Linked DNA regions of Homo sapiens. The protein of the gene in region 4 interacts with the protein of the main gene of each other region in a pairwise test. Each region holds a gene or a part of one and is shown on either strand. Other genes may lie near its edges. The genes, in order: KLRC1, SLC2A9, KASH5 and ITM2B.

Evidence for each region.
Region 1: the proteins of ITM2B (region 4) and KLRC1 interact in binary tests that used the Homo sapiens proteins (3 or more experiments, as listed by UniProt).
Region 2: the proteins of ITM2B (region 4) and SLC2A9 interact in binary tests that used the Homo sapiens proteins (3 or more experiments, as listed by UniProt).
Region 3: the proteins of ITM2B (region 4) and KASH5 interact in binary tests that used the Homo sapiens proteins (3 or more experiments, as listed by UniProt).

What each region holds. Positions count from the first base shown.
Region 1 is NC_000012.12:10,450,369-10,458,205, forward strand, and holds the start of KLRC1 (NKG2-A/NKG2-B type II integral membrane protein), read right to left. Parts: upstream 3,010-7,837; 5' UTR 2,830-3,009; intron 820-2,829; 5' UTR 789-819; coding exon 602-788; intron 212-601; coding exon 116-211; intron 1-115. UniProt on the Homo sapiens protein: Immune inhibitory receptor involved in self-nonself discrimination.
Region 2 is NC_000004.12:10,018,476-10,026,302, forward strand, and holds the start of SLC2A9 (solute carrier family 2, facilitated glucose transporter member 9), read right to left. Parts: upstream 3,023-7,827; 5' UTR 2,955-3,022; coding exon 2,805-2,954; intron 2,791-2,804; exon of another isoform or gene 757-2,790; intron 599-756; coding exon 500-598; intron 1-499. UniProt on the Homo sapiens protein: High-capacity urate transporter, which may play a role in the urate reabsorption by proximal tubules. May have a residual high-affinity, low-capacity glucose and fructose transporter activity. Transports urate at rates 45- to 60-fold faster than glucose.
Region 3 is NC_000019.10:49,405,233-49,412,254, reverse strand, and holds part of KASH5 (protein KASH5), read right to left. Parts: intron 5,370-7,022; coding exon 5,292-5,369; intron 5,016-5,291; coding exon 4,959-5,015; intron 4,644-4,958; coding exon 4,584-4,643; intron 3,289-4,583; coding exon 3,224-3,288; intron 3,060-3,223; coding exon 2,972-3,059; intron 2,503-2,971; coding exon 2,380-2,502; intron 1-2,379. UniProt on the Homo sapiens protein: As a component of the LINC (LInker of Nucleoskeleton and Cytoskeleton) complex, involved in the connection between the nuclear lamina and the cytoskeleton.
Region 4 is NC_000013.11:48,264,186-48,270,859, forward strand, and holds the end of ITM2B (integral membrane protein 2B), read left to right. Parts: 3' UTR 1-6,172; downstream 6,173-6,674. UniProt on the Homo sapiens protein: Plays a regulatory role in the processing of the amyloid-beta A4 precursor protein (APP) and acts as an inhibitor of the amyloid-beta peptide aggregation and fibrils deposition. Plays a role in the induction of neurite outgrowth.

The DNA.
Region 1 (7,837 bases), on a different chromosome or scaffold from region 4:
GTCCAAATATATACATTACAATGAGAACTCTATTCCCTGAAAATATGAAATGTTTAGAGGCACATTCAATCATTAACGTGAAAATTCCCCTTGTAATCTTCGAAAATAGACTTACAGGGAATAACAACTATCGTTACCACAGAGGCCATTAAGATAAGACAGATAATTCCCAGGATCCCAACAATGAGCTTCTCTGGAGCTGATGGTAAATCTGCAGGGAGAGAAATGGGAACAGTGCGAAAGGAGAGGTGGATACAGTCGTTTAGAAGATTCACAGACAAGAGAACCTGAATGCACAGGAATCATACAGAGAAACTTGGACCCCAAACCCTCATCTCCCATTGTAATCTTTTTCTCAGAATAATATACCATTGAATTTTCAGGAAAAATAATGCTCCATGAATTATTTGACAAAGACTACAAACTTCAACAATGAGTTCAATCAGTCTTCATACTTTACATTGAAATAGCATATCTCAACTTGGAATTCTGATCTTTGCAAATAGAAGATATATGAGCACTCCCTTCTCTTTCCCCACATTCCTGTACCCCAAGCTGCACATCCTAGACTGTTATATTGAGGATCTTTTAAATGCTTTACCTTTGCAGTGATAGGTTTTGTCATTCCCTTGAAAATCCTGAGAAGCTTTTTGAAGGTTTAATTCCGCATAGGTTATTTCCTGTTCAGTTGCTAAAATGGAGTTTTTATTGCCTTTAGGTTTTCGTTGCTGCCTCTTTGGGTTTGGGGGCAGATTCAGGTCTGAGTAGATTACTCCTTGGTTATCCATCTCTGCAGTGTGTGATGTCAGGGACTGTACTCTATAATAACAGTAGTTAAGAAGTTAATAAATGGTTTATATACAGGATTCCCTAGTGCAATTAAAAGGGTGAGGTGGAGAACGAGTATTGGAGCTCATTTTGCATTAAATAATCTAAAGTTCTTTCTCTGATTTTCTTCAAGCCTAAACACGTTTCTTATGAATATTTGTTTTAAAAAAAGATTTTTAGGCCGGGCGCGGTGGCTCACGCCTGTAATCCCAGCACTTTGGGAGGCCGAGGCATGCCGATCACGAGGTCAGGAGATCGAGACCATCCTGGCTAACACGGTGAAACTCCGTCTCTACTAAAAATACAAAAAGTAGTCGGGCATGATGTCAGGCGCCTGTAGTCCTAGCTACTCGGGAGGCTGAGGCAGGAGAATCTCTTGAACATGGGCGGCAGAGGTTGCAGTGAGCGGAGATTGTGCCACTGCACTCCAGCCTGGGCGACAGAGTGAGACTCCGACTCAAAAAAAAAAGATAAATTTTCTGCATTTGACAAAATATTATTGCTGGGGCAATGAGAAGCAATAAATTACTAAGGAATAAAGAAGTTCAGGAATAAAAATATATTTCTTAAAGTCTGATGTTTTACCTGTGTTAAAAATTAAAATGTTGTATTAGAAAAACTTCTGCACTCATTTTTATGTTAATTTTGAAATCCAGTAATGGTTAAGACTATGTGGTCTGCACATGAGTAATAGTAAAGTTGACATATATATATATAAAAATTTCTTGCACTACATTACTTTTAATTAGTAATTTATACACATTAATGAAAATCAATAGAGGTAATTAAATGGTCTTTTCTTAATGGCTGAAATGTTCTAAGAAATTATTAAAAATTATTTATTAAAAATTATAAAAAATTAAATATTTGTATATGACAGAAAATGCTATGTGACACAGTTAACTTATGCATAACCTAAATAGTATTAGGAACACTACATAAATTGTTAATACTTACAGAAGTATTGGTAATTTAATTAGTAATTGGTAATTTATTTCCTGGCTAAATTATGAACCAAAAAATGATAAATAAAAGTATAGGTAATTCATGTTAAAGCACATTTCATTTAAACTTATAGAATGATTTTATGGTTGTCAAAGTGAGTAAAGGCCACTTTAGTTGTATAAGTACTTGTAAAATTTCAGATAATGTAATTAAATCATTTAGTCAATGGGCTCTGGAGTCAGTGAGATCTAGAATTAATTCTAGCTTTGACACTTATAATGTGCGACCTTTAAAAAGTTATTCTATTTTTAATAACCCAGTTTGTTAATCTAAAATGGGCATAAGAACATATAAAACGTTGCATGTAAAACATTTACCACTCAACCTGGCACTTAAAGTTCTCAATAAGCATTAGCTACTTTAATTATTATTTTAGTCACAATTGTTATGTTACTGTTTCTGATTCATGTCAGTTAAAGCATGGAAAATAAATCTTCAGATAAGTCTCCTATGTCCATGCGCTACATCTTTTTTTGCAATATTTTGATCAATTTTTAAAAAGTATTTTTATTGCTTTGTAATACCTTTAGCATTTTATGTAATCTACCTCATTCTGATTTTTATTAAAAATAAAAACTGCTTTTCTCTAATCTACGTGTCTGAGGAATTGTATTTGGCTTTCATCAATTGATTGATTTATTTTAATAATCTTTAATGGCTAAGCTAAATATAAATTATTATTCAAAGATACATGATGTACTGATTACAAAATACAAAATTAATTGTTCATTATTGTGATGTTAATAGCTTTCCCTTAAACGATATTGATCAACAAACCCACTAGATTTCCACAAACAATAATTTGAAAACTTTAAGAAATCCTTCAACATATTTCATATTTTAGGTTTTTACCCTGAGTTATTCAAATGAAGACAGCAATATTCTACTTTGATTTTATTGTATATTAATTATACCTCCTTTGTATCATATTGAGCACTTGAAATCACCCACTAAATGAGGTAGGCTAGTAGAGAGTTGGAGAGTAGCAATACATACCTTCTGTCCCCAGAAAGTCACACATCCTTTAGTGGAGAGGCCAGGTTAGTCTCATAAAAAGGCCTGCTATAGCTGTGTAATAAAAGGTGAAATTTAAAGGCATAAATCCAAGACAAGAACAAACAATGCCTGCAATCTTCGCAGACTGCCCTGTGAAGGCTCAGAGTGAGTCAAGAGTGGAAAAAGTAGATTTCTCATCAACGTGTTACTAAGGTTTGAACAGGAAATTCTACACATGGGCTATTGTGAAATCAGTTTTATCTCATCACACACCTCCAAAATATAGGATACTTGGTCTATTAAAAGTACAAGGTTGACTTTGAAAGTGTGTCATTTAGTTGGTTCATTTTTCAAGTGCCTATGAGAATTTTTTTTTTTTCTGTCTTGATCACGAACATTGTCAACCCTCACCTTGTTAAGAGTGCCTTTTAGACTAGGTTGCTAAATCTTAACATTGCATACTTCTTTTCTTTATATTATTTTATTATGTCACTTCCATTATAATAGAAAACATTCTAAAACTCATAGTAATATTATCAACTGATATCTACTGATTTTTTCCTTAATTATTCTGAAAAATTACTGCAGTAATTACTCAATTGATTGTAGCTGGCACAAAAAGCATCATTGCCAAAGTTATATTATTAACTTCTCTTAGTTCTTAAATTTTTGCACTTAATTTTTAAAAATAGATTATTTAATCTTCAGATTACCCTTGATAAAAATATCTTGGATAGGTAAAATATTAATCAATTTTGAAATATATTAGCATACCAGAAATTGAAATATTAAATAGCTATTCATTACATTCTTCATTTATTCATCCTCCGCCATAACAAATTATGTCGACTTTCATAGAAATATTTAGTTGTAAATGACAAAAACTGAAGTCAAACTATGTATGGGGAAAAAGTAATTTTAAAATCTTACTAGGAGGAAAGTCAGTAAATTGGCAGAATAGGTGGTCCCCCACACATATGCCCCCACAGCAACAATAATTTTTCAGCCATCCACAGACAAAAGTTCCTTTGAGGGAGTTTGGAATTCAAGTAGGAGTTTGTAAAATGCCAGTGGAACCCAAGACCTAGGAAGGTTGTTTTAGGGAATAGATTTGCATCCAAGTGGCAGACTTACCAACAGTGATTCCATCTCCAGACCTGAAAAGGGACCCATCCTCCTGTGCTTGCCTTCAGCCCCATTTAGGCCTTGGTCATGCTGCCAAAACCATTTGCCCAGGGGCCCAGGAGGAGACTCACACACTAGTGTCTCAGGAGGTAGGCATATCAACTGTAGTCTCAATGTAGACCCTGAAACAGCCCTCTAACTTGGCTTTAACTAGTGTCAGCCACAACTTGAGATCAGTCCTTCACCCACAGAGACTTCCTGGGAGACATATACATCTGTACCTCTGGGGCATGCTTGCTGACCTCTGTCCTACAGAAGATACTAAAATGGCCCTGAATCTCCACTCAAACTCCTCTCAACTGTGACCTGAGTTAATCACAGGAAATTGCTGTGAGACTCAATCATCTTTGTCAGCAGTACAGGCTTGCTGACTTCAGTTCCACGGTAGTTTCTGAAACAGCCTTGAATCTTGACCTTCACCCTTCTCAGCTGTGGACTGTGAGCAGTCTTGCCAGCTCAGGGATACAGAGGGAGGACATGTGCATCCATGTCCCAACTAGGAGACCATTGACCTAGGTTTCACAGCAGATCCTTTAATTGGACAGAAAAGGGGCTTCGACACTTCTCAGCTATGCTAGAGAGCAGTTTGCCCATACAGGGACCTGGAGAGAGACATCATTAGTGCCCCTGCAGGCACAGACCTTAGTTTTATTTCAGATCTTGAAACAATTCTGGATCCAGCTCCAGCCCAACTCAACTACAGTCTGAGGCAAATCTGCCTGCCCACAGACCTGCCAGAAAACACACTCAACCATGACCCCAGAGACAGACATGAAGACACTGGTTTCAGCTATAGACCCCGAGGAAACCTTGTGACTTAGCACTAACTCCTCTGTGCCACAGGTTGAGGAACCCACTCAGAGACCCATGAGCAGCCTTCCCAGCAAACTAGATAAACTCTTCCCCAACTACACACCTAATAATAGACCCACCATTTACAGACCTTGAAGTGGACCCTCATCCCCTCCCCAGCCCTATACAGTATGATTCTAGAGCCAGTTTGGCCCTCTGAGGCACTAAATAGGATACAAGCCTGCTAGAAGCCCTAGTAAAAGGATCATGAACCAAAGATCCCACTCTGGACCCGTAAGCAACCATGTGATCTGGCTGTAACCCCATTCAACCATGATACTGAAGGCAATCTCATCAGCCCAGGACACTAACAGGAGAAGCTTTTAACCTACCGAAACCAGTCTGTAAAGACTGAAAGAGAGTCTGCTCTTTCAAATGCACAGACATCAGTACAAGGATAAACAAATAACAAAGCATCAGACAAATATGACACCACCAAAGGAAACTAATAAAGCTTTAGCAACTGATCCAAATAAATGGAGATCTATAAGTTTCCTTTAAAGTAATTCAAAACAATCATCTTAAAAAATCTCAGTGAGATGCAAAAGAAAAGAGTAAACAAAAAATACAACTAAAACAAAAAATACATGAACAAAATAAAAATTTAATAAAGAAATATAAACTATTAAAAAGAACCAAACAAAAATTCTGGAGCTGAAGAACACAATGAAAGAAATAAATAAGTCAATAGAGAGTTTTAATGCCCGACTCAATCATGCAGAGGAATTAGTGAACTCAAAAAAAGAGTCTTTTAAAATTAACAAATTAGAGTAAAAAAAGAATAAAAAGTGGCAAAGAAAGCATGAGACCTTTGAGACACCACCAAGAATATGGTATAGAAAGTATAGAAACTTCAGAAGGAGAAGAGAGACATAAAAAGTCAAAAATATTTTTTCTTTAAAGACATACTGTCTGAAAACCTTCCTCACTTGGGAAGGATATGGAAATCCAGATTCATGAAGCTCAATGAATCATGAGCAAGATCAGCCCAGAAAAGACTATTATGAGGCATAATATAATCAAATTGTCAAAAGTCTAAGATAAGAGAATCTCGTGGGGGGGTTTTGTTTATTTTTTAGCTTAATGTGATCTCGTTTGTCCATTTTTGCTTTGGTTTCCTGTGATTGTGGGGTATTACTCAAAAAATCTTTGGCCAGTCAACTGTCCTTGAGAATTTTTCCAATTTTTTTTCTTTCAACTTTTATTTTTAGATACAGGGAGTACATGTGCTGGTTTGTTACATGGGTATATTATACCAGAATAGTGAGTATAATCCAAAGTAGGTAGTTTTCTGAACCATTCTTCCCTGCTCTCCTCTCCCCTCTAGTAGTCTGCAGTGTCTTTTGTTCCCATATTTACGTCTAAGGGTGCTCAGTGTTTAGCTCCCACTTATAAGTGAGAACCTTCAGTAGTTGGTTTTCTGTTCCTGCATTAATTTGCTTAGGATTATGGCCTCCAGCTCTGTCCATGTTGCTGTAGAGGACATGGTTTTATCTTTTTTATGGCTGAGTACTAGTCCATGGTGTATATATGCCACATTTTCTTTATCCAGTCCACCACTGATGAGCACATAAGTTGATTCCATATCTTTGCTGTTGTGAATAGTGCTGTGATAAAAATGTGAGTGCATGCGTCTTTTTGATATAATGATCTATTTTCATTTGGTTATATTCCCAGTAGTGCAATTGAGGGTCAAATGGTAGCTCTGTTTGAAGTATTATGAGAAATCTCCAAACTACTTTCCACAGCGGTTAGGCTAGTTTACATTCCCACCAATAGTGTATTAGCATTTTCTTTTTTCTGCAGCCTCATCAGCATCTGTTGTTTTTGGACTTTTAAATAGTGGTCATTCTGACTAGTGTAAGATGGTATCTTACTGTGGTTTTGATTTGCATTTCTCTGTTGATTAGTGATGATAAGTGTTTTTTAATATGCTTGCTGGATACTTGTATGTCTTCTTTTAAGGAGTGTCTGTTTATGTCCTGTGCCCATTTTTAAATGAGGTTATTGTTTTTCCTTGTTGTTCTGTTTAAATTCCTTATAGATTCTGGATATTAGACCTTTGTCAGATGCATAGTTTGCAAATAATTTTTCCCACTCTGTAGGTTGTCTGTATATTTCATTAATAGTTTATTTTGCTGTGCAGAAGCTTTTTAGTTTAGGTCTCATTTGTCAATTTTTGTTTTTATTGCCCTTGCTTTTAAGGACATAGCCAAAAAATTGTTTGCCAAGGCTGATGTTGAGAAAGGTATTTCCTAGGTGTTCTTCTAAAATTTTTACAGATTGAGGTATCACATTTAAAATTTTAATTATCTTGAGTTAATTCTTCTATATGGTGAAAGGTAAGGGTCCATTTTAACTCTTCTGCACATGGCTAGACAGTTACACTAGTGATACAGGAACGAGAAAGAAATTATTTAGGCAGATAGTGAGGGTAAAGGAATTCTCAGCAAGGCTTCCCTTTTAACAAAAAGCAGCCCCAAATAACTTCTTTTCTAACAAAGAGCAGCCTGAAAAATGAAGCAGCAGACATAGATAAGCAGGCTGGAGACTTGCATGTGTGCATGCTGGCAGCTGTGCCAATAGAAAAGGGGCTGACTGGAAGCCAGGCATTTTCAACCTGGAGGCTCCATCTTCCCTTTTCTTTGTCACTAATAAAGAACCAGGCAACATGGCACAGGCCAGGTAGACAACCATCTGCATAATAAAAGACTAGGGTTGAGTGGCCAGCTTCTTTAAGCGCTATGCAAATGGCATGCCTAGTCCGACCAATCTTTCGTGCCCTATGTAAATCAGACACTGCCCCCTCAAGCTCATCTATAAAACCTTCTACATTTCACTGCAGAAGCAGCAACCCATTTCTCCAGTACCCATCCCTGGGCAGAGATCTCTTCTCTTTCTTTTGCCCATTAAACTTCCTGTCTTAACCTCACTCTGGTGTGTTCACGTCCTAGTTTTCTGTGGTCATGGG
Region 2 (7,827 bases), on a different chromosome or scaffold from region 4:
CGGTTGCAGTGAGCCGAGATCGCACCACTGCACTCCAGCCTGGTGACAGAGTGAGACTCCATCTCAAAGATGATAGATAGATAGATAGATAGATAGATAGATAGATAGATAGATAACAACAACAACAAAACAAATCAAGAAAATGTCCAAGTTTCCATGCATAAGGCCCCTCCTGGTTCTTTCCCCGGCATTAGGGGCCAGAGGATCGCCCCCCACCCCACCCCGGGACTTCCGAAGCCCCCTCTCATCTAGTCTCCCAACGTTCTCCCAGGACACCCGCCCTCCAGCCGCAAGAACTGTCATCCCCCGCCCCTGTCCCCGTGTCATCATTGTCTGTCTCTGTGCCTCCCCTCTCCCCCGAGTGGGGGCTAATCTCTGTCCCCGCGGTGTCCCGCGCCGCGAGCGCAACAGGAGGGGGCGCTGGAGCCCAGGGCCCTTGCGCACCCGAAGGTTTCCGCAGGGCCGCAGCGCCCTCTGCCGGGCCTTGGCGCGCACTCACCGGGGTGGGGGCATTCACCACCGACAGGTTGTAGCCGTAGAGGAAGGAGGAGCCGAAGGCGCCCGCGAGGGAGGCCACGAGGAGCGAGCAGGACCAGTCCTGAGGGGAGAGGAAACCACGTCAGAGCCGGCACCGGGCGCGCAGCCAGGGCCGAGGGAAGACCTGGAACGTTCCCTCAGCTGGGGGAGGCCTTCCGGAGGAGAAGTCTTTGTCCTTGGCTGGGGTAGAGACAGAGAGAAGAGACGCAAGTTGGGGACCTGCAAGTAGGGTTCCAGTCCAGGTCCGCGTGCGCAGGCCGGGCGCCCTCAGGTTTAGCGGCCACGCCCTTGCGTTCCTTCCGGGTTGCGTGAGGATTCCTGAAACGCAGTTTTCAGCAGCTGCTCTGGGCAGCTCCACACGATCCTTTCAGCGAAGTTGGCGAGTGTCCGACCCAGACAGAAAAAAGCAAAGCCAGACTCCAAGCGCTATCAGCCAGGCGTGATTCTAAGCACTTTTCTGCGCATTGTCTCTGAGTCCTTAGATCAGTGCTGTTATGTCCTGTATTACAGGTGAGGAAAGAGGGGCAGGGAGCGTGGCTGGTGCTGTCTAGGATGGGGACTGAAGTCCAGGTGGCCTGGCTGCAGTGCCCCTCTAGTCACCACTGCACTGTCCCCTGCTGACCCGTCACCTGAGTGCCGTTGTCCAAGGGCCTGAGACTGCCGACAGCCAGACAGATGTGCACACACGCTTACATGCACATACTGTTCCAGTCTGAGGCGTCAAACTACAGGGGCTGGTCCAAGCCTCAGGACAAGGACCTGCAGACGTAGAGATGCAAGGTTTGGCACAGAGAACAGGGCGCCTGCCTTGGTGTTGTCCTGCCCTGCAGCCCCATCTAAGGACAGCCACCACCAGTACAGGGCCATAGGGCAGAAACACCTGGATCCCTGGCAAAGGCTGACAAGCTGGCATGAGCCAGGGCAGGAGGGATGGCTGTCCTCAGCTGGTCAGGGAATACAGGCCAAGTGGACAGGGGCCAGGTGCTCCGGAAGGCACCTTCTTTGCCATCATTTGACATATTTGTGAGTGTGTGTGTGTGTGTGTGTGTGTGTGTGTGTGTTGTAGGCGCCAGGCCCTGACAAAGCTGTGGGGGTGCAACAGTGAAGAAGACATATGGATCCATGGTTCAGGGACCCATATCAGTCAAATCCCGTCTGGAAGGGAATGCGGGTCTCTTGATGGCCACTTACCTGCTCTGCCAGTCTCGTTTGTCTCCTCTAGTGCCACCAGCCACGAGATAGAGCTTTGGGGCTTTGAGCCAAGTGATATCAGCTTTACCTCCAGGGCCAGTCCCCTCAGCTGTAGGAGTCTGAGCAAGTGACTTGACTTTTCTGGGGCTCAGCTTGCCCACCTGTGAAATGGGATCTTAATAGCAGCACTGGCCACATATGTTGTTGAGGAGCCTGCTGCAGAGGAGGTGCTCCGTAGAGGCTGCTGATCACATGCGGGGGCAAGAGGGAACATTTATAAGCCTTGGGGATGGGTGCTGCCAATTGAAATGTAGTACCAGAATATTTTTCTGCAGTGAGAGGAGCTTGAGCTGAATGGGGATCCCTGATGGAACAGAATCACATTTCAGATGAAACGCCTGTTCTCTATCACTCTTTCTCTTTAAACCTATCCTCTGAGTCTCGGCACAGATACCACTTCTTCTGAGCCCCTGGGCTGTGCTGGGCATCGTTTCTGTGCTCTGTGCCTTCTTTGCTCCCAGCCCCGATGACCTTAGAGGACACAAACTCCTCCCTGGTCTGCACCCCATCAGATTGGGAGCACCTGGTGTGAAGTGCCCCTGCCAGAGGCTGGTGAAGGGCAGGTGGGGGCCATCTTCTCCTGCCTCAGCTGTGCTCCCCGGAGCCCCCTGCCTGTGTGGCCCGCCTGTGCCCTCCACCCGCTCCCCACTCACTGCACGGGCAGAGGGTGCCCACTGACCGACGGTGCTGCTGCCCGTGCCATGCCCTGGGGAGGGTGAGAAGAGGGACACCACCATGCAAGTGCGGGGCAGGGCAGCCTGCCACCATAGCCTCATTCCATGTACACACCCAGTCTACCAGAGACGCTGTTGGCCCAGTCAGCTGGGGCTTGGAGAGAGCATGCCAAAGTCACACAGATGGAGAAGTGCAACTCAAACTGAGGCCTCCCTGCCTCAAAGCCCCAGATCCCCCAGCTACACGCTGCCAGGCTGGGGCTGAGCACTGTCACACGGCTGCCACCCAGGCCTGCCTTCCCCACAGCCCGCCAGCCATGCAGAAAAGCTGTCCGTAGTTACCTTTCTTCTCCTTCCACCTGGCACCCCACTCCTCAGGTGGTCACACTCCAGCAGTGCCCTCCCTGGCCCTGGAGGCCCGGCGTGGCTGGTGTCATCTGTGAGGGGAACTAGGCCCAGTTCCTTGGAATTCCTATTTTGTTTCCTTGCCATGGGTCTCAGTGACCCAGCTGATGGCTCAGTCCAGGGACCCCAGACTCTGCCAAGGCATTTCCGTGAGTGAGGAGGCAGAGTCCACTGGAAGGAGGGCGGGAGTTCCTGACAGGAAGTGTGGCAATTTGATCATGCCTGAACAGGCAACGGGGCAACATTTTTTTCTCTGCTCCTAAGTTATTACAGCAATGAAACAGTCCAAAAAGGGAAATCTGTCCTCTCCAGGATTGCCACCCAGGGGGTGGAATTTTTTTTTTTTTTCTTAGCATCTTTTTATTTTTCTCTGGTAACAAAGCCTGGAGCAGGGTGACTGCCATTAACCTAGGATACCTCCCTAATGCTTGGAACAGAATGGAGAGGTGGCTGACTTTGACTCAGAAGCCTGCATACAGCTCTGCCCCTGACTCTTCCACTTTTTTTTTTTTTTTTTGACCGAATCTTGCTCTGTTGCCCGGGCTGGAGTGCACTGATGCAATCTCTGCTCACTGCAACCTCCGCACCTGGGTTCAAGCAATTCTCCTGCCTCAGCCTCCCAAGTAGCTGGAACTATAGGCGTGTGCCACCACGCCTGGCTGATTTTTGTATTTTTAGTAGAGACTGTGTTTCACCATGTTGGCCAGGCTGGTCTTGACCTCCTTACCTCAGGTGATCTGCCCACCTCAGCCTCCCAAAGTGCTGGAATTAGAGGCGTAAGCCACCATGTCTGGCCAACTCCTCCACTTTTTAACTGTGTGTCCTCAGGCAAGTCACTTTATTCTCTGAGCTGCAACTTCTACCACTGCAAAATGGAATATTGACCCCACTCTGACTGTCCTGCAGACTTATTCTGAAGCTCAAATAGAAAACAGCCAGCCCCAAGTGGCGTGCTGTAAATGAGTGTGGGCTCTCCTGTAGCCTAGAACAAAGGCGAGGGCTGTGGGTTTGGAAGAAAAAGAATTTGCCTCTTAGTCGTTACTCTGTCCTGCTCATTCAGCACTGGCTGAGGGGACATGTCCTGTATTCCAGCCCCAGGCTGGCTCAAGGACAGTACTGAGAAGGCAAGGGCCTCATGCACACCAGGAGGTTGTGGGAATCAGTTCATCACATGGCCATGTTGCCTCAGACGCCAGAGAAGCACCTTCAATTTTGGCTAGAACAGTTTGCTCCCAGAAGCAGAGAGCAGTGCAGAGTCTGGGCCAGAGCCAGGGACAGGCTTGGTGAATGCAGAACGTCCAGGAGGCAAGGTAGGGCTCAGTCCACAAAAGAGAGATCGAAAAGTTAGCAAAGTACGTTTAGTAAAAAGCACACAATAAAATAAAAGGTGTGGAGTACGGCAGACATTCCAGGAACCTGGAATGTGAAACGCACGTGGAAACGTCCGGCCCTGACATGCACGGTGGTGGGAATGTGGCTGCTCAAAGCAAGTGGGGAATCAAGACTTCCAAAGAGGAAAACCACCCTCAGGAGTTAGGTTGGGGATGTATTGAGCACGCCAGTCATTCAGTGCAATCGTCCTTCTGTGTGTTAATCAGTCAGGCATGCCCCGGGAGAAGTGGCTGTTTCTTGAACTGGATTTCAGCTATGCAGCCTGGTTTCCTCATTGAGTGGTGGGCCTAGAGCAGCATTCTGATGTGCAAATCCTTAATTATAACATGACCTAAAAAGGCGGAGGATTCCCCAGGACAGTGTGGAGGAGGCACCACATCAATCTCAGCTGGATCTTGGAGACCCCGCTGGAAGAGGCGGCTTCTGAGCGGACAGAGAAGGATACGGGGTGAGAGGACAAGGAGCCAAGGCCTGCAGGCACAGATGCCTGCAGTGTGTGGGAGGAAGTGAAATTGTCAGTGAAGCATGGTTGGGGCCTGAAGTACAGGAGATGGGCAGAGGAGGGGCAGGGACAGCTGCATCCCTGTGCATGGAGGGCCCCTCTGCCCCTATGCTGTCCTGATAGGGACTGCATTTTCATCATCTCATTTACCCCTCCTCATCCCATTGCTGTGACTCCCCTCTCTATACCCTCCCTGTTTCCTCATCTGTAACAGTGGGGACCTCACCAGATTTTGCTAAAGCTCAAATTGGATCAGGTGTCCCCTCATCCCGTTAAAAATTGCTTCGTAGTCCTCTGTTGGGTTTGAAAACTCAAAAGGAACCAGAAATTAGGCAGTGGACATGAATGTGCAGCTACAGCTGGACAGAAAGTAAAAGAGCGGAGATGGGTCCCTCCCGGATCCAGATGGTAGCTAACCAGGGTTCCTGGTAGCCACAGCACTTGCCTCACCTTCAGCTCCTACTACATGTGCACAGCTCATGTTACATGTGCACAGGGCTTTCCCAAGTGTGTTCACCTTCATGATATCGTTTAGTCCTCAGAGGAACTATCAGACCTACATTTCGGGGCAACTGAAGTTCAGGGGGAGCATGGAGGAGCCTGCCTCCAAAGCGAGGGCTGGTTCCCCATTCCACAGGGCCATCGGCCCTGCACTGCAGGCAACTGCTAAGGAAGCGACTCCTATCACAGATGAAGTCATAAGACAAACATCCCCAGATGTTCTGGGCTGGGGCACGTTCTGCCTGCTCTGACACTCACTGGTTCCTTCATTCAGTCATTACTTGCCTGTCTTTATGAAGCTCCTACTCATTCAGGTTCTCCTGACCTTGCTCAGGCCCTCACTTCTGACTGCCCTGAACTGTGCTCACCCTTCAGCACTTAACTCTCTCGCCACCTCCTCCCAGCAGCCTCCCCAACCTCTCGCTGCCTCTGTGCTCCATGTGTGCCTTCCCCTCTGCACGTGTGCTGCTGCTCACGTGTGCCTTCCCCTCTGCACGGGAGCTCACTGTGGGCAGGGATGGTGTGCGTCTCAATGGGCTGATTGTGTCCCCTCAGATTCACATGTTGAAGTCCTCACCCCAAGTACCTGACAATGTGACTGTATTTGGAGATAGGGTTTTTGAAGAGGTAATTAAGGTTAAATGAAGTCATATGCATGGGGCTGTATTCCAGTATGCCTGGTGTCCTTATAGGAAGAGGAAATGAGGACACAGACACACACAGAGGGATGACCACGTGAGGACGCAGGGAGAAGGCAGCCACTTCTGCCAAGAAGGGAGGCTTCAGAAGGAACTAACCTGCTGACACTCTGAGCTTGGACTTCTGGTTTCTAAGACTGTGAGACAATACATTTCTGTTGTTTAAGCTGCCCAGTCTATGGGACTTTGTCTTGGCAGCCCCAGCAAACCCACAGTGTCCTAAGCCTCTTTGTATTCCTAGACTTCCTTCAGCCTGGCTCAGGGACAGGGTCCAGTAGATAGGCATCACTTCTGGAACTGACCTTAAACTGTCCTCCGGATGATTTCCTAAGGCTAAAAAGTTGTCTTGGACAAGGTGGAAGTTTTCTAGCAGGGAAGAGTTGGAAAAGAAGGGGGGTTTTCTATTGAGTATCATTTAAGCAGAATGTTTGAAATGACTACATCCCTTCCTTCATTACACCAAATACTTAGACAGTAGATCCTTGACTCACCTAATGTAAGCACCAAGAAAAGATATAGCGTCCACTTAGAGGGAACTGCTGTCTATTTGACATTATTCTTGCGTGGGGTCTTGGGTAACCTCAAACAGGTGACTGCACCCTTATCCTCCATTTCACACCTCTGTGGGGACAATGATGTTCAGCTTGCCAATTTCACACCTTCTTGACAACTTGGTAAATGGACTTGTGTTGATCTCTGTCCTACCAAATACAGGTTTATTATAAATACAAATAAATTTTCCCTGGAGTCACAGTAGCTTCCACACCCATCACAGGAGGTGAGGCACAGATAATCCAAGGTTTAAGAAGGGCTCAAACCTGTACTAGCCACATAGCCTTGGACAAGTGGCTTCATCCCTTTCTGAGCCTCAGTTCATCGCCTGTAAAATAGGGCCAGTGATGCCTTCAGCATGGTTTGATCCAGAGAGAACCATGTAAAGAGTCTCTCTTTAAATGAGAGCCCTATGTAAAGGTCCAGCACAGAGTAGGCACTCTCTGGCTGTTGGTTCTTGAATCAGGTTTAAAAAGAGCATCTGATGAGTCCCAAGAAGAAAGAAAGTCATTCTATTAATAGGAGCTGAGGACTTCCTGGAGGAAGGGGCAGGTCGACTAAGCTTTGTGATGGATTAAGGGGTGGGTTTTAGTGTATCTTTAACGATGATGACATAATCATTGTCAACATCAATGTCCCCTTGTTGAGAAATGACCTTTGTAATGGAGACTTTTGCCCCAAGCCCAGAAAGTCACCAGCAGATCAGGACTGTCAATTTCACTCTTCTGAGCCTCATCCCAGACACTCTACAATCCCCATGGCTCCTTCCCATAGAACTTGGCTTTCAGCTGCTGCTCACTCTTTTCTCTGCCCAGCTTCACCTTAACAGCCTCCCACTGACCCAGGGGAAAGGGGTACTACCCCCTGGGTGACCGGAATAATCATGTAAGGGAGACAGAAAAAAAAAAGGACTGACCAATTTCTTTTTCGCTGAATCACTTTCTTCATCTTCTCCTCGGTCCTTTTTACTGAGCTTCATGGTTCACTTTTCAGGTTTTGAACTTTTGTTGTTATTGTTTCTGAGAAAGAGAAAAAGAAAGAAGCCATTAGACAGCTGCTTTCTCAGATGTGCAAGTCAGGGGAGGTGGCCTGGAGCAGTCTTCGAAAGGTTTGCTGTGAGGAGCTCTGGCTGGGATGCCAGGATAGGACACAGCAGCATCCTCGCTTGGGCATCTCCCTGCTCTCCTCTGTCCTCAGTTTCTCTATTTTTGAGTGCAGGGCTTCCCACACTTGCCTTGTTGATTATTAAATACAGGCAATGATCCCATTCCTCTTCTGCATCATCAATTTATCTCTCTGTGTTGGATCTCCCCGG
Region 3 (7,022 bases), on a different chromosome or scaffold from region 4:
GGCTTCATCACCATTGCTCCAGCCTCCTCCCTGCCTCCAGTAGGTCCCTCACATGGTTCCAGAGGGATCTTTTTAAGCCCGGAGCTGACCCCACCCTTCTTGTGGCTTTATGAAGAAAAGTACAATCTGTTAGCTTGTCAGAGATTTCCTTTCATGATCTGGCCCTGGCCTCATCTCTCACTAGTCACCCCTAGTTACCCTCTACTCCTCAAGCATATCGTGATTTTATGCCAAGGCCTTGCACAGGCTGTGCTAGTGCCTCAAAGGCTGGCTTCCTTCTTTCCTTCCTTCCTTCCTTCCTTCCTTCCTTCCTTCCTTCCTTCCTTCCTTCCTTCCCTCCTTCCCTCCCTCCCTCCTTCCATCCTTCCTTCCTTCCTTCCTTCCACTCAAGTATCAGTTTTCCTTCAATATCTTCCCCAATCTCTGACCTGACACAGATACCCCTTCTCTGGGCTCCCACAGGCCCATCCCCCACCTCTAGCACAATGATCATTCTGCACTGGGGCAACCCATTTGCAGGGTCTCTCCTATCAGGCCTTGAGCACTGAGAGGCCCGGCCCCAAGGGACTCAGCTCTGTATCCCTGGGCCCATCGCAGGTTGCACTCTGAGGCCTGGCTCAGTCTTCCCCTTGACAAGCCTGTCTCTCAGGGGCATCTGACAGCTCAAAGCAGAAGCCCAATCTAACCTACACTTCTGAGGGATGAGGCTCTGTCCCCAACAAGCTGTGTGACCATTGGCATGTGATTTCTCCCTGAGCCTCAGTTTCCCATGAGTAACAAGATGAGGATGCCTGCCTTACAGAGATACTGGGAGAGTTAAATGAGAACCCAAACAAGCTCTGGTGTCAAAGAGAAACAAAAGCTTTTCTCAAACCAGGGAAAAAGTGATCAGAGAAATGAGTCTCTCCTTAAGGATGGCAAAGAGCTTTGAAGTGGTGCAGTTCTCAAGACAATACAGCTTGTTTATAGAGCTGTTTACAACATTTTCTTTAAAAGAAAAAAAAAAAATAGAGAGAGAGCCCAGAGCAGTGGCTCATGCCTGTAATCCCAGCACTCTAGGAGACTGAGGTAGGCGGATCACTTGACCCCAGGAGTTCAGCCAGACTGGGCAACACAGGGAGACCTCATTTCTACAAAAAATAGAAAATTTAGCTACACATGGTGGCACATGCCTGTGGTTGCAGCTACTTGGGAGGCTGAGATGGGAGGATCACCTGAGTCCAGGGAGATTGAGGCTGCAGTGAGCTGTGATAATGCCACTGCACCCCAGCCGGGGCAACAGAGAAGCGAGTGAGACCGTCTCAAAATAAATTAATTAATTAAAAAAAAAAAAGCCAGGTGCAGTGGCTCATGCTTGTAATCCCAGCACTTTGGGAGGCTGAGGTAGGAGGACAGTTTGAGCCCAGGAGTTTGAGACCAGTCTGGACAACACAGTGAGATCTCAACTCTATAAAAAAATTTTAAAAAGGCTGGGCATGGTGGCTCATGCCTGTAATCCCAGCACTTTCGGAGGCCGAGGCGGGCAGATCACCTAAGATCAGGAGTTCAAGACCAGCCTGGCCAACATGGCGAAACCCCGTCTCTACTAAAAAAAATACAAAAATTAGCCAGGTGTGGCAGCAGGTTCCTGTAATCCCAGCTGCTTGGGAGGCTGAGGCAGGGAGAACTGCTTGAACCTGGGAGGTGGAGGTTGCAGTGAGCTGAGATCGTGCCACTGCACTCCAGCCTGGGTGACAGAGTGAGACTCCATCTCAAAAAAAAAAAAAAAGCCAGTCATGGTGGTGTGTTCCTGTAATCCCAGCTACTTGGGAGGCTGAGGTGGGAGGATTGCTTATCCAGGAGATTGAGGCTGCAGTGAGTCAAGTTCACTCCAGCCTTGGCAACAGAATAAGACAAGATCCTGTCTCTAAAAACAAAAAACAAAAAAAACCCCAATGGTTATTGCTGAGTTAAAGATGTCATAGTGAGCTTGCTGGCTTTTCTTAAAGGTGCTAACATTTGAAACATAAATGCTTAATATATCCTTAAAATGCTGGAATAAACAACTTACTTATTCCCTTCCTACAGTAGTACGATTTTAAATAATGTAATTCCCAAGAGTGTTTTCTAAAAAACAAACCAACAATAAAAGCCACAGTGCAACTTGTGTGTTTGCTTGGTTCACCTTTGTCTACAACGCTGGCAGGTCAGTCCCTGGGGTAGGGGTGGTGTCTGGTCTGGCTTGTGGCTGGGTGTCCAGCACACACTGGGCCCTCAATTAACATTTTCTCATCAAATGGGGAACAAGCAAAAGTGTGAGTGAATGGGCTGGCCAGGGCGGCACCTGGAGCTCCTGGCCCCTTTCCAGCTCCTGGACTTCAGAGCTTTTCCTGTGCTCACCTGTCCCCCAGCTGGGGCTTCAGATGGAAACTCAGTTTCCTCACTGGTCTCATGGATGACTTCCTCCCACTGCCACACCCCACACAGAGGGTTGGAGAGATCAGCAGTTGCCACTTCCTGTTTCTGGGACAGAAGTTGTTTCCGAGGTCAGGGAGAGCCATATTAAGGTAGAAAACAAGGTCAGAGATAGAAATAGGTTTAGGTGTGCGGCTGAAAATAGGATGAGAGATAGAAAAGGGCTGGTGTGGGGCTGGGGTTGGGGAGTGGGCAGAAGCAGGAACAGGGGAGGATTTGGTGCCAGGACCAAGGTCTAGGTTCGAGATGAAGTTAAGGAGTGAGATGGTCATGGAGGGAGACGAGATAGGGGTGAGTCAAAGCTGGATCAGACTGGGGTCTGGCACAGGCCTGGGTCTGGCAGTGGGTTTGGGGTTAGGATCCGAGGTAGAGAGAGTTAGAGAAAAGCTAAGGTTGCGATAGGAGCCTCTGGCAGCAATGTGGGTTAGGGCTAGGCTGGTGTGAGGATCAGAGTAGGGAGATGTTTGGAGATTCTGCCTTGGTGGCCTGCAGCTTATTCCAGGGGTGTTAGGCCCACCTGTCGAATGGCCTCGATCTCCAAGCCCAGCGATGGGGGTAGCAGCTCGGTCCAGCCCACTCTTCTCAGCTGGGCCCCTTCAGGTAGCCTGGCCACACAGGAAGGAGGGAGGAAGATGGCCTCTGTGCCTGGTGGCCACTCAGTCAGCTCATGCTGGCCTCCCTTCCCTGCCCACCTTGGGGCTGGAGGCCAGGGTGTCCCTGCCCTTAGGCTCCCCTCCTGCCTCCTCCTACCCCTTGAAATTCCACTCACTCATCGGGCCCCTCATAGGTCTGACTCAGCTGCTCCTCCAGGCGTGAAATCTCCAGCCTCAGTTCCTGCAAAGGAGGAAGTGGGGAGCACATTTGGCTCTGCATTTTTCCCACCCTCCCATCCACCTCTGGGCTCCTCTTCCAGGGTTCTTTCCCCTTTCCTGACTACTTTGGGCTCCCCAGACACATACTGCCTAGGGACAAGGGGAAGAAAGCCATGACAGAATGTTAGGAAGCCAAAGAGAGAGAGCAACAGGAATCCAGAAGCTAAAGCACAGGCCAAGAGGCCAGGCGCAGTGGCTCATGCCTGTAATCCCAGCACTTCAGGAGGCCCAGGCGGGCAGATCACAAGGTCAGGAGATCGAGACCATCCTGGCTGACAGGGTGAAACCATGTCTCTACTAAAAATACAAAAAATTAGCCGGGCATGGTGGCACACGCTTGTAGTCCCAGCTACTTGGGAGGCTGAGGCAGGAGAATCGCTTGAACCCAGGAGGTGGAGGTTGCAGTGAGCCGAGATTGCACCACTGCACTCCAGCCTGGGTGACACAGCCAGACTCCATCTCAAAAAAGAAAGAAAAAAAAAAAGCACAGCCAAGACAATTAAAAGAAGGAAGGCAGAGGCAGAGATGCATGAAAAAATGAGACATAGATGGAAACAGACTCACAGACAGGCAAGAGAAACATGAGGGCTAAGAGACTGGTAAAGACCAGAGCCAAACAGAGAAGACTTGCCTAGGGAGACAGACAGCCTAGACCTAGAGGCAGAGACAGGAACCCACACGAGCCTCGCAGAGACACATAAAGATAAGGAGGGGAGGCTGGGTGTGGTGGCTCACGTCTGTAATCCCAGCACTTTGGGAGGCCAAGAGGGGTGGATTACGAGGTCAAGAGATCAAGACCATCCTGGCCAACATGGTGAAACCCCGTCTCTACTAAAAACACAAAAATTAGCTGGGCATGCTGGCATGCACCTGTAGTCCCAGCTATTTGGGAAGCTGAGGCAGGACAATCGCTTGAACCTGGGAGGCAGAGGTTGCAGTGAGCCGAGATTGTGCCACTGCACTCCAGCCTAGCGACAGAGCAAGACTCCGTCTCAAAAAAAAAATAAGATAAGGAGAGGAGGTGTGTGAGAAGACACCCACAGAGAATGAAAGTGAATGGAAGGAACAGAGAAAAAGTGAAAAGGCAGATACAGAAACAGAGGGGGAGACATGCAGTCATACAGTCATACATCAAGGATGGAAGAAGCAAGATGTGGCCACTGACAAAGAGGCACGAGGAGGAGAGGCAGCAAGTCCCAGAGATGGCAAAAGAGAAGTGGCGAGGGCCGCGGTGGGTGGCGAGGGCCGCTGAGTTACCTGCGTCGTCACTCTGTATTCTTCCAGGGTCTGGGCCAGGCTCTCCACATCGCGAGTGCGCTAGGAAAGCCGAAAGCCAAATGAGACTGGGACCAGTTCCCCAAAGACACTGGGGGTGGTGGTGGCGGGGGGACTGGCTGGGGGGTTAAGGGACAGGGTGAGCTTGAGGGAAGAGCTGGGGCACAAGGGAGAGCACCGGGCAGAAGGGCTTCTAGATCCCTGAGGGGTCACACTTGGGACCTGGGGAAACCCTCCAGTCTCTCCAGCTGCACATCCAAGGATCAGACCCAAGTAGGACTTCCCTTTCTAGACCAGGGGCAGGAAGTGGCTGGTGCACATGGAAAGCGAATCTCTTTCCCTCCCGGGGCCCCTTACCTCAGAGAGGATGGTGTCTCTTTGGCAAATGAGGTGTTCACACTCAAAGAGCTGCCGCTGCCAAGAAAGGAGCCGGTCCATCCATCCAGCCTCCCAGGACTCCCCTTGGTCCTGCCCTCCACCTGGCCCCACCTGTTCTCTCGCACCCCCACGTATTCAGCCTCCTGAGATGTTCCAGGACTTCAGGGATTTTAGGGATGCCTGGGTGGTCCTGGGAGCCTGACAGCTTGATGGAAGACCCTGCCCTTATCAGGCTGCAGTCACTAAAACCGGAAATGGGAAAAATGGCCCCGGGGTGGTGGAAAGTTGTCAGGCACTAGGAAGGAGTGGCACCTTCAAAGTGTCCTTCTCCATGGCCAGCTCCTGACTTCTCTTTTTCACTCCATCCCGCTCGGCAAGCAGCTTCCCGTTCTAGAAGAAGGAATGGCTGGTCACGTTCATTCCAGCAAGTGGTAATGTCAAAATTAACAGCAGATATTTGCTAAACACTTGATTGATATACATCAGGCCTCATGCTAAGCACTTCATATGTTTTAACCCATTTAATTCCTCCAACCATTCCAGTGGGACCACAGCTTTAATTTCTTTGAGTGTGGCTCCCCCATCTATAAAAATGGAGCTAGGCCACGCGCAGTGGCTCACGCCTGTAATCCCAGCACTTTGGGAGGCTGAGGCGGGCGGATCACAAGGTCAGGAGTTCAAGACCAGCCTGGCCAACATGGTGAAACCCCGTCTCTACTAAAAATAAAAAAATTAGCTGGGCATGGTAGTGCGTGCCTGTAATCCCAGCTACTCAGGAGGCTGAGGCAGGAGAAATACTTGAACTGGGAAGACGGAGGTTGCAGTGAGCCAAGATCGCCCCACTGCACTCCAGCCTGGGCGACAGAGCGAGACTGTCTCAGGAAAAAACAACAACAAAAAAACGGAGCTTAACTAGGACCTACTTTATGGGATTGCTGTAAAGATTAGATAGGTTAATAATCGCTAACACTTACTGAGCATTTTGCATGTGTTGACTCATTTCTTATCCCCAATTTTAAAATCAAAAGAACAATATAAGCAGCCTGTTATCCACATTATCTATCACCCAGCTTCAATAATTATATGCATTTTCTCGGTTTTGTTTAAACTGAGATGTTTCTCCTCCAGATTTTTTTTTTTTTTTTTTGAGCCAGAGTTTTGCTTTTGTTGCCCAGGCTGGCATGCAATGGTGCGATCTTGGTTCACTGCAATCTTTGCCTTCTGGGTTCAAGTGATTCTCTTGCCTCAGCCTCCCTAGTAGCTGGGATTACAGCCACCTGCCACAACACCCAGCTAATTTTTTTTTTTTTTTTTTTTTTGAGACGGAGTTTCCCTCATGTTGCCCAGGCTGGAATGCAATGGCATGATCTTGGTTCACTGCAACCTCTGCCTCCCGGGTTCAAGTTATTCTCCTGCCTCACCCTCCCAAGTAGCTGGGATTACAGGCATGTGCCACCACGCTCAGCTAATTTTGTATTTTTAGTAGAGACGGGGTTTCACTATGTTGGCCAGGCTGGTCTTGAACTCCTGACCTCAGGCGATCCACCTGCCTCCACCTCCCAAAGTGCTGGGACTACAGGTGTGAGCCACCGCACCCGGCTCTCCTCCAGATGTTTTAAGTAGATTACTTTAAAGCAAATTGCAGGCATCATATTAGTTCACCTGTAGTTACTCCAGCATTTATCTCCTACTTGAGGACTTATTTCCTTTAGCAAAACCACAATACCACTATCATACTTAACAAAATTAACAATAACTCAGTATCATCTCATACTAGAAAGTTTGTGCTCCTTTTTCTTTCTTTTTTTTTTTTTTTTTTGAGAGGAGTTTCACTCTTGTTGCCCAGGCTGGAGTGCAATGGCGTGATCTCGGCTCACTGCAACCTCCGCCTTCCAGGTTCAAGCGATTCTCCTGCCTCAGTCTCCAGAGTAGCTGGGATTACGGGCACACGCCATCACACCTGGCTAATTTTTGTATTTTTAGTAGAGACGGGGTTTCACCACGCTGGCCAGGGTGGTCTTGACCTTCTGACCTCAGGTAATC
Region 4 (6,674 bases):
CAGCTCTGTACAGTTGTTGACAGTGCCTTTTTTGAAACCTATCACTGCTATATGTTAGCAAGCAAACACTGATCTTGTTTTGTAATGTGTAATTGTTCACTTCTGCTTTCCCTGTATCCCTTTTTAGATTCCACACCCATATTAGTGAGAAGCAAGAAAAAAAAATGTACACAGTGTCCTAAATGTTGTTTATCTCGAATAATAGAAGTAGGAGTGTAAAACTTAAAGGCTGATTAATAATGCAAATGAAAAGGCAAATGGATTATTGAATAGAAAAGGTCTAGATTCTATGTTTGAATGTGGTTATGAATTAATATGGGCAGAATCTCTAAGATTCTGCTAAGTGAACATTTAGTAGTTTACTAGACATCTTCTCTTCCACCTAGCAAAGAGTTTGTTGCCCAGAGTTATATAAATCCTACTCTATTGCACACTAATCTTTGCATGTTTAACTCTTTGGGACTTAGGTTCCTAGATAAGGACTTCATGTGTATCTATTTAGAAAAAGAACATTTCTTCATTTCCACAAAGCTACACAGCCATCAGTTCGTTCAATATCTTGTCCAAAGTTATTGCTAGCGTTCTTCTTTCTGAGTCTTTGTGGCTAATGCTTTTTTGAGGAAGAAGCATGATTTAGTCTCAGCTCTCTATTGATCATTTTAGGCTTTTATCTTACTGAAAAAATTAAGCACAATTTAAGATTTTTTTTGAAATATTTACTGAATTTTGAGGCCATAAATTATTTCCTGATAGCACACATGTATGGGTTGTAGATTCCACACTTTTAATCTTCCAGCCACCTATTGCAGATTGGTTCTGAGAAGCAGGATGAGTGGGAGTGGGCTTAGGGGTCAAAATTGAGACCTAAGTGGTATAAAACAAGATAATCCTAGCTTCCTCCCACTTAAAATAATTTGATGGGACTTCTGTATCTGATTTTTAAGCTTGCATTTGTGTTTATATTTTCATTGTAAAAATATCAAATAATACAGTTTTTGAAGGTAAAAAGTAAATGTTCCCGCCCTTCTACCATCCTCCTTCCTCAGTCCCATTCCCCAACAGTTTAACGTGCGATACAATAATGTGTGACACAAAATGACCTAGTTCTTGCCCTAGTGACTAAGCAGATGCAAACGCCTTCTTCTTTCCAAACAGTGTGGTCTTATCCCCGTCGCAAATGGAGGATATTTAAGAAACCCAAGCCAGAAACCCCACAGTCTTCACAGTCACTGTGTCCTCCACCTCCTAGCAGCTTCCTGCTGTTCTGCTCTAGTGGTTCTCTCTGCTTCCCCACACCCACCCGTAAGCCACAACAATCTTTCCAAAACACGAACTTGATGGTTTCATTGTCACACCCCAGCTTAAAACACTTTCCTGGCTTCCCCTGGTTCTTAGGATAAAGACCAAAATACTTAATGCTGCACAGTCCAGTCCCAACCCACTCTCCAGCTTCATCTTAATCACACCCCTCTTTGCTCCTAGTGTCCTACCACATTGCCTGACTTACTGTTTCTTGGTAAATGCTATTCTTACTTCCTGAAGATTATTTCCATCTCCTCACCCGACACCCTTCAGTTAGCTTCCACTCAACCTTCAGAATTTAGTTCAGGTGACCCTTCCTCAAGAGAAGATTTTCCTGAACCATTAGGAAAGGCTTCTCTTGTTTCTCAGTCTCATAGCATCATCTGTCTCTTTTTTGTGACTTGAATATAATTAATATTTTATATTTTGTCCTTGTTGCTTGTTTGGTTAATAGATTTCCACCACTAGACTGCTCAATACGTTAGTAGGGCACCTGACACATAGTTGCAGCTCTTATTTATTGAATGAATGAATGATTCCTTCCCGTACCACCCTAGTCTTGCCCACTGTCATTTTTATTCTGGGTATTATATTTCCCAACCAGTTGTCTGACTTTCTCCTCAGATCTCATCCCCATGGGTCTGAGTGAGTTGCCTTGAATATAAGATTCAGTGATGGTGTCCTGCTGCACTTAAGAGAAAATCCTTTTTTCAAGCCCTAAAATCCTGCCCTCACTAGACTTCTCTCACCATTTCTCTGTTTGCATCCTAGCCTTTTAGTTTTGGCCTCATATAAGCTTGCAGCCCTGCCTGAAACAGTTGTCTCTGTCCCCACTCTACCCCCTGCCCTCCACAAAGAAAAGTTAACTCTTACTCATCTTTCAGATCTCAGACTAAAAGTTTCCTCAGAGATGCCACCATAGCTCTCTATTTCTCATACCTTTCATGATACTTCATCACCTGTCTTCATGAAGTCCTCCTCTAGACTATTAGCAAAATGCTCATACTGTGTCCTCAGTATTTGGCACATAATAGGTTTTCTTGACACTGAAGGAAGGAATAAACATCTGGTAACTATAGCTAGAAAAAAAGGAAATACGGTATCTACTTCACTAAAACCAAAGGGGGTTTTTTTGGGCAGACAATCTTCATTATTCAGATGGAAATTAATGTTTGTTGAATGAATGAGCTACATTTCATGGATTAACTCCATGAAATGGAGTTCAGCTAGTAAGGGTTATACTTTGAGGCTATTTCATCTTGATGGGCTTGTTGTTCAAAGTTAGAGCCTCATTTTAAGTAAAATGTTCTGTGGGGGCCATATTAAGATTTTCATATGACAGAAGTGTATATATATCCACAAATGTTTCAAGCCAAGATTATGTCTTCTTCCATAATGCCACCTTCTTCTAGGATAGTATTTTTGGGCCAGATGGTTTTCCACATTTAAAACATACCAACATTCTTTTAAGGCCCAGTGATTATCAAAAGGGATTGGCACTACATTTTAAAATGTAGGGGGGATTTTTGATTGTCACAGGACTAGAGGATGCCATTTGTATTTAGTAGATGAGGCCAGGCAGGATGCTAAATGTCTTAAAAGTCCGGGAGTCCTGCACAAAAAATTACTGCCCTTCTTGATTTGCCAATTATGCCCCTGCTGGGAAGCATGAAAGGAGAGAGAAGAGCTTTCAGAATGTCAGGGATAAATATATCCATTAAGCCTTCAGACTAAGATGCAGGAATAGTTTTCCATTTGGGTATGAATACGGCAAGTTCTTAGAACATTTCTTAAAACATAATTAGCCAAATACTAGTGTAACAGCTACAACTTATCTAGTTTTAATCAACTCCAGGGAACATTACACTTTATTTAACCCCTAATTATCTGATAACCCAAGTTCTGTCAGAAACACTGCTGAGGCATCCAGGAAGATGAGCCTGTGAAATTTGAGAATCCTTCATGTCTCTGGAATGAGTCCCTAGATTCTAGCCCTGCAGCTAGCTGACACTCTAAAAAATTATGAGTGCCTTCCTTTAGCTCCCCATAGAAATGTCTTTGTATAACCATGGCATGATATTATTCTCTTGACTTTTGTTGAGGATTGATAGAAATAAAAATGAGCCAGAAATGTTTCTTCAGCTTTTGTAAAGTGCTGTTAAAAGCATTATGTCATATCTAGTACTTCTTATCTAAGTATTTTAAAATTTAGTGTTAGGAAAATTTTTTTCACATAGGATACATGTTAATATTAGGTAGTACATCTAAAGAATTCATTTGCTTCCCTTTTGCCTTGGTTGCTGGGAAACTCAGAGCCAAACTCGGTGCTTAGATTAATTACTTTCAGCCTAGGTTTTTCTGTATATCACCCTTTCGGTAGGGCTTGAAGTAACCCTTCAGTTTGCTCATATTTTGTTGTGAGTTTTATAGATAGTTTACATGCAACGAAATGCATATATCTTAAGTGTTCAACTCAGTGAGTTTTGACACTTTTCTTTGTCCATGTTAACAATCATCAAAACATTTTCATTGCCCCAGAAAATACCATTGTGCTCCTTTCCGGCAAATATTCCTTCCCTCTGCTAAAACTACTTTTTCATTTCTATGACCATAGTTCAGTTTTTGGCTATTCTTGAACTTTATTTGAATGGAATCGTACATATATAATCTTTTTGTTTGGCTTTTAAAACTCAGTATAACGTTTTGACATTTGTCCATGTTGTTGCATGACTCAGCAGTTCTTTCTTTTCAGTTGCTGTGTAGTAGTCCATTTCTTTTGGTTTTGTGTGTGTGTGTGTGCTTTTTAAATTTATTTTTTATTTTTTTTTTTTTGAGACAGAGTCTGGCTCTGTCAACTCAGGCTGGAGTGCAGTGGCATCATCTCGGCTCACTGCAATTTCTGTCTCCCAGGCTCAAGCCATCCTCTAACCTCAGCCTCCCGAGTAGCTAAGACTCTACAGGCGTATGCCACCATACCTAGTTTGTTTTTGTTATTTTTTTTAGTACAGATGGGGTTTTGCCATGTTGTCCAGGCTGGTCTCGAACTCCTGGGCTCAAAGCAATCCACCCTCCTCGGCCTCCCAAAGTGCTAGGATTACAAGTGTGAGGCACTGTGCCCTGCCAGTATTCCATTTTTTGTGTATACCACAATTTATCATTTTTTTCTGTGTAGGTATTTTCATTGTTTCCAAGTTGGGAAGTATGAATAAAGTTGCTATGAACATGCATGTACAAGTCTTTGTAGATAGCTCATGTTTTAAAAAGTGTTTGTTTAATGATTTCATTGCAAAATCATCTTTATTGTAAACATATCTTTTTGAGGGTAGATTGGTAAAATATACATAATAAATACATGACAATGCAGGAGTCCAAGTATTATTAGGTTTACAGTCATAACAAACACCAAGAACCATTTATAAATTTCAGTTTCTCATTGTTTTAGAATGGAAGGTCTAACCAAATATGTAATGTATCCCTTCAAGTAAACTAGTATAACTTGGGTACCTTCTCATATAAATTCCCCTTAAGGCATACGTTGCTGTCTTTTCCAAATTCCCATTTTGCTTGTCCAATAGGCATTATCAGATACAACATGTTCAAAGGCAAACTTGATTTTCCTCCCATGGTTTCCTCATCTCAGCTCCTTTTTTTTTCCAGTTGCACAGGCTAAAAATAGGAAGTCATTCTAGATTCCTCTCTTTTTCATAAACCTCACATCAAATCCATCAGCCAATCTGGTGTGCTCTACCTTCAAGATACGGATTATCCAGAATTCAGCCGCTTCTCACTGTCTCTACTGCTAACATAGTAGTCAAAGCTGCTATCATCTCTTGCTTGGATTGGTGCAATGGCCTCACAACTGATCTTCCTGCTTCCATACTTGACCCCTAGAGCCTCTTCTAAACAGAGTAGCTAGAGCGATCTTTTCTAAATCTAAGCCACATCATGTCACTCCCCTGCTCAAATCCCAACATTTTATTCAGAATAAAAGTCGAACAATGCCCTACCTGTAGGTAATCTAGGCCTCCAAAGCTCTTCTTACATCACCTCCTGTAACTCTCCCCCTTTCTCACTCCTCTACAGCCACACAGCTGCCTCACTTTCCTTTGAACGTACCAAGGGCAATCCTGCTTCAGAGCCTTTGCACTTGCTGTTTCTGGGCCAGGAATTCCACACCCTCCTTCCCTCACATGTATCCCAAGGCTCACTGCCTTCCTTCAGTTAAGTCTGCTGGAATGTCACTTCATTAGGTATTGCCTGATCACCTTTTCTAAAGTGAGTCTCACCTCCACCCTCAATGCTGGCAATGTCTGTCTGTAGTGTATTCTTAACAATACAGATTAGCACAATGCAGGCCAGACCATGAAGACTGTTTCAAGTTCGAGGATGGGCAAAAATAATGACTAGGACTTGGCTCAAGATTCCTCAAACAGCCAATAAACAATGCAAAGAATAAATGAGAGAGTAATTGGAGACAAGCTTTCCCTTGGCTTCCCTTCTTTTCTCACAGAGGCTTTTCCAGAAGGTGGTCATTTCCATAGCCCATGTGGAATGAGATGTCCACTAGGGCAGAGAAGCACAGAACCGTGGGCACTGCTTCCCTTCCTTTAACCCTATCATATTGCTGCCCAGTGAGCAATATGGTCATTGGTCAAGAAGGCTTATGCCCAGGTATCCCTGTGGCTATGAGCATTGCTCCTTATCTATGCCTCTGCTCTTAGACTTTTCCATTCTGCCCTCTTAGGGGCCTTCCTGGCCATGACCACACTACCTTATTTTTCTCTATAGTACTTATCACCATCTGACATGTATTTATGTTTGTATTTGTTTATTGTCTGTCTCTACAAATAAAATGTAAATTCCCTAAAAACAGAGACTTTATTATTTTTGTTCATGTTACATCCTCAGCACCTAGTAAAGCACCTGGCACGTATTAGGAACTCACTAAATATTTACTGAATGAACTTTGTTCAATAAATTTAACATGGTTCTATGTAGCCTCCTTTTTAAAAATTGGCTCTGTTATATAGACTTCAGGGGCAACTGATAACAAACAAAACCAAACTTGGCTTTTTTCCCTTTTTTTTTTCTTTAATTGTAGTTTCAGAATTTCATCTGGGAGTGGGAATGGCCACAGGAATGCAAGTTCTGTACACCTCAGATTTGGTGCTAGTGATGTTGCCATGTTAAGAAAGTGAGCTGGGCCTTGTGCCTTCAGTAGACAGAATCAAAATCTATTACTTTATTTTAATACCCGAAGTTCAAATTACCTCTTAGGTAGGGATCCCTTAAATGTGATAGTGCTGAATCACAATGGAGGAAAAAAATGGCAAAGAGTATATTGAAATTCAGACTGATTCACAGGTAAAAGG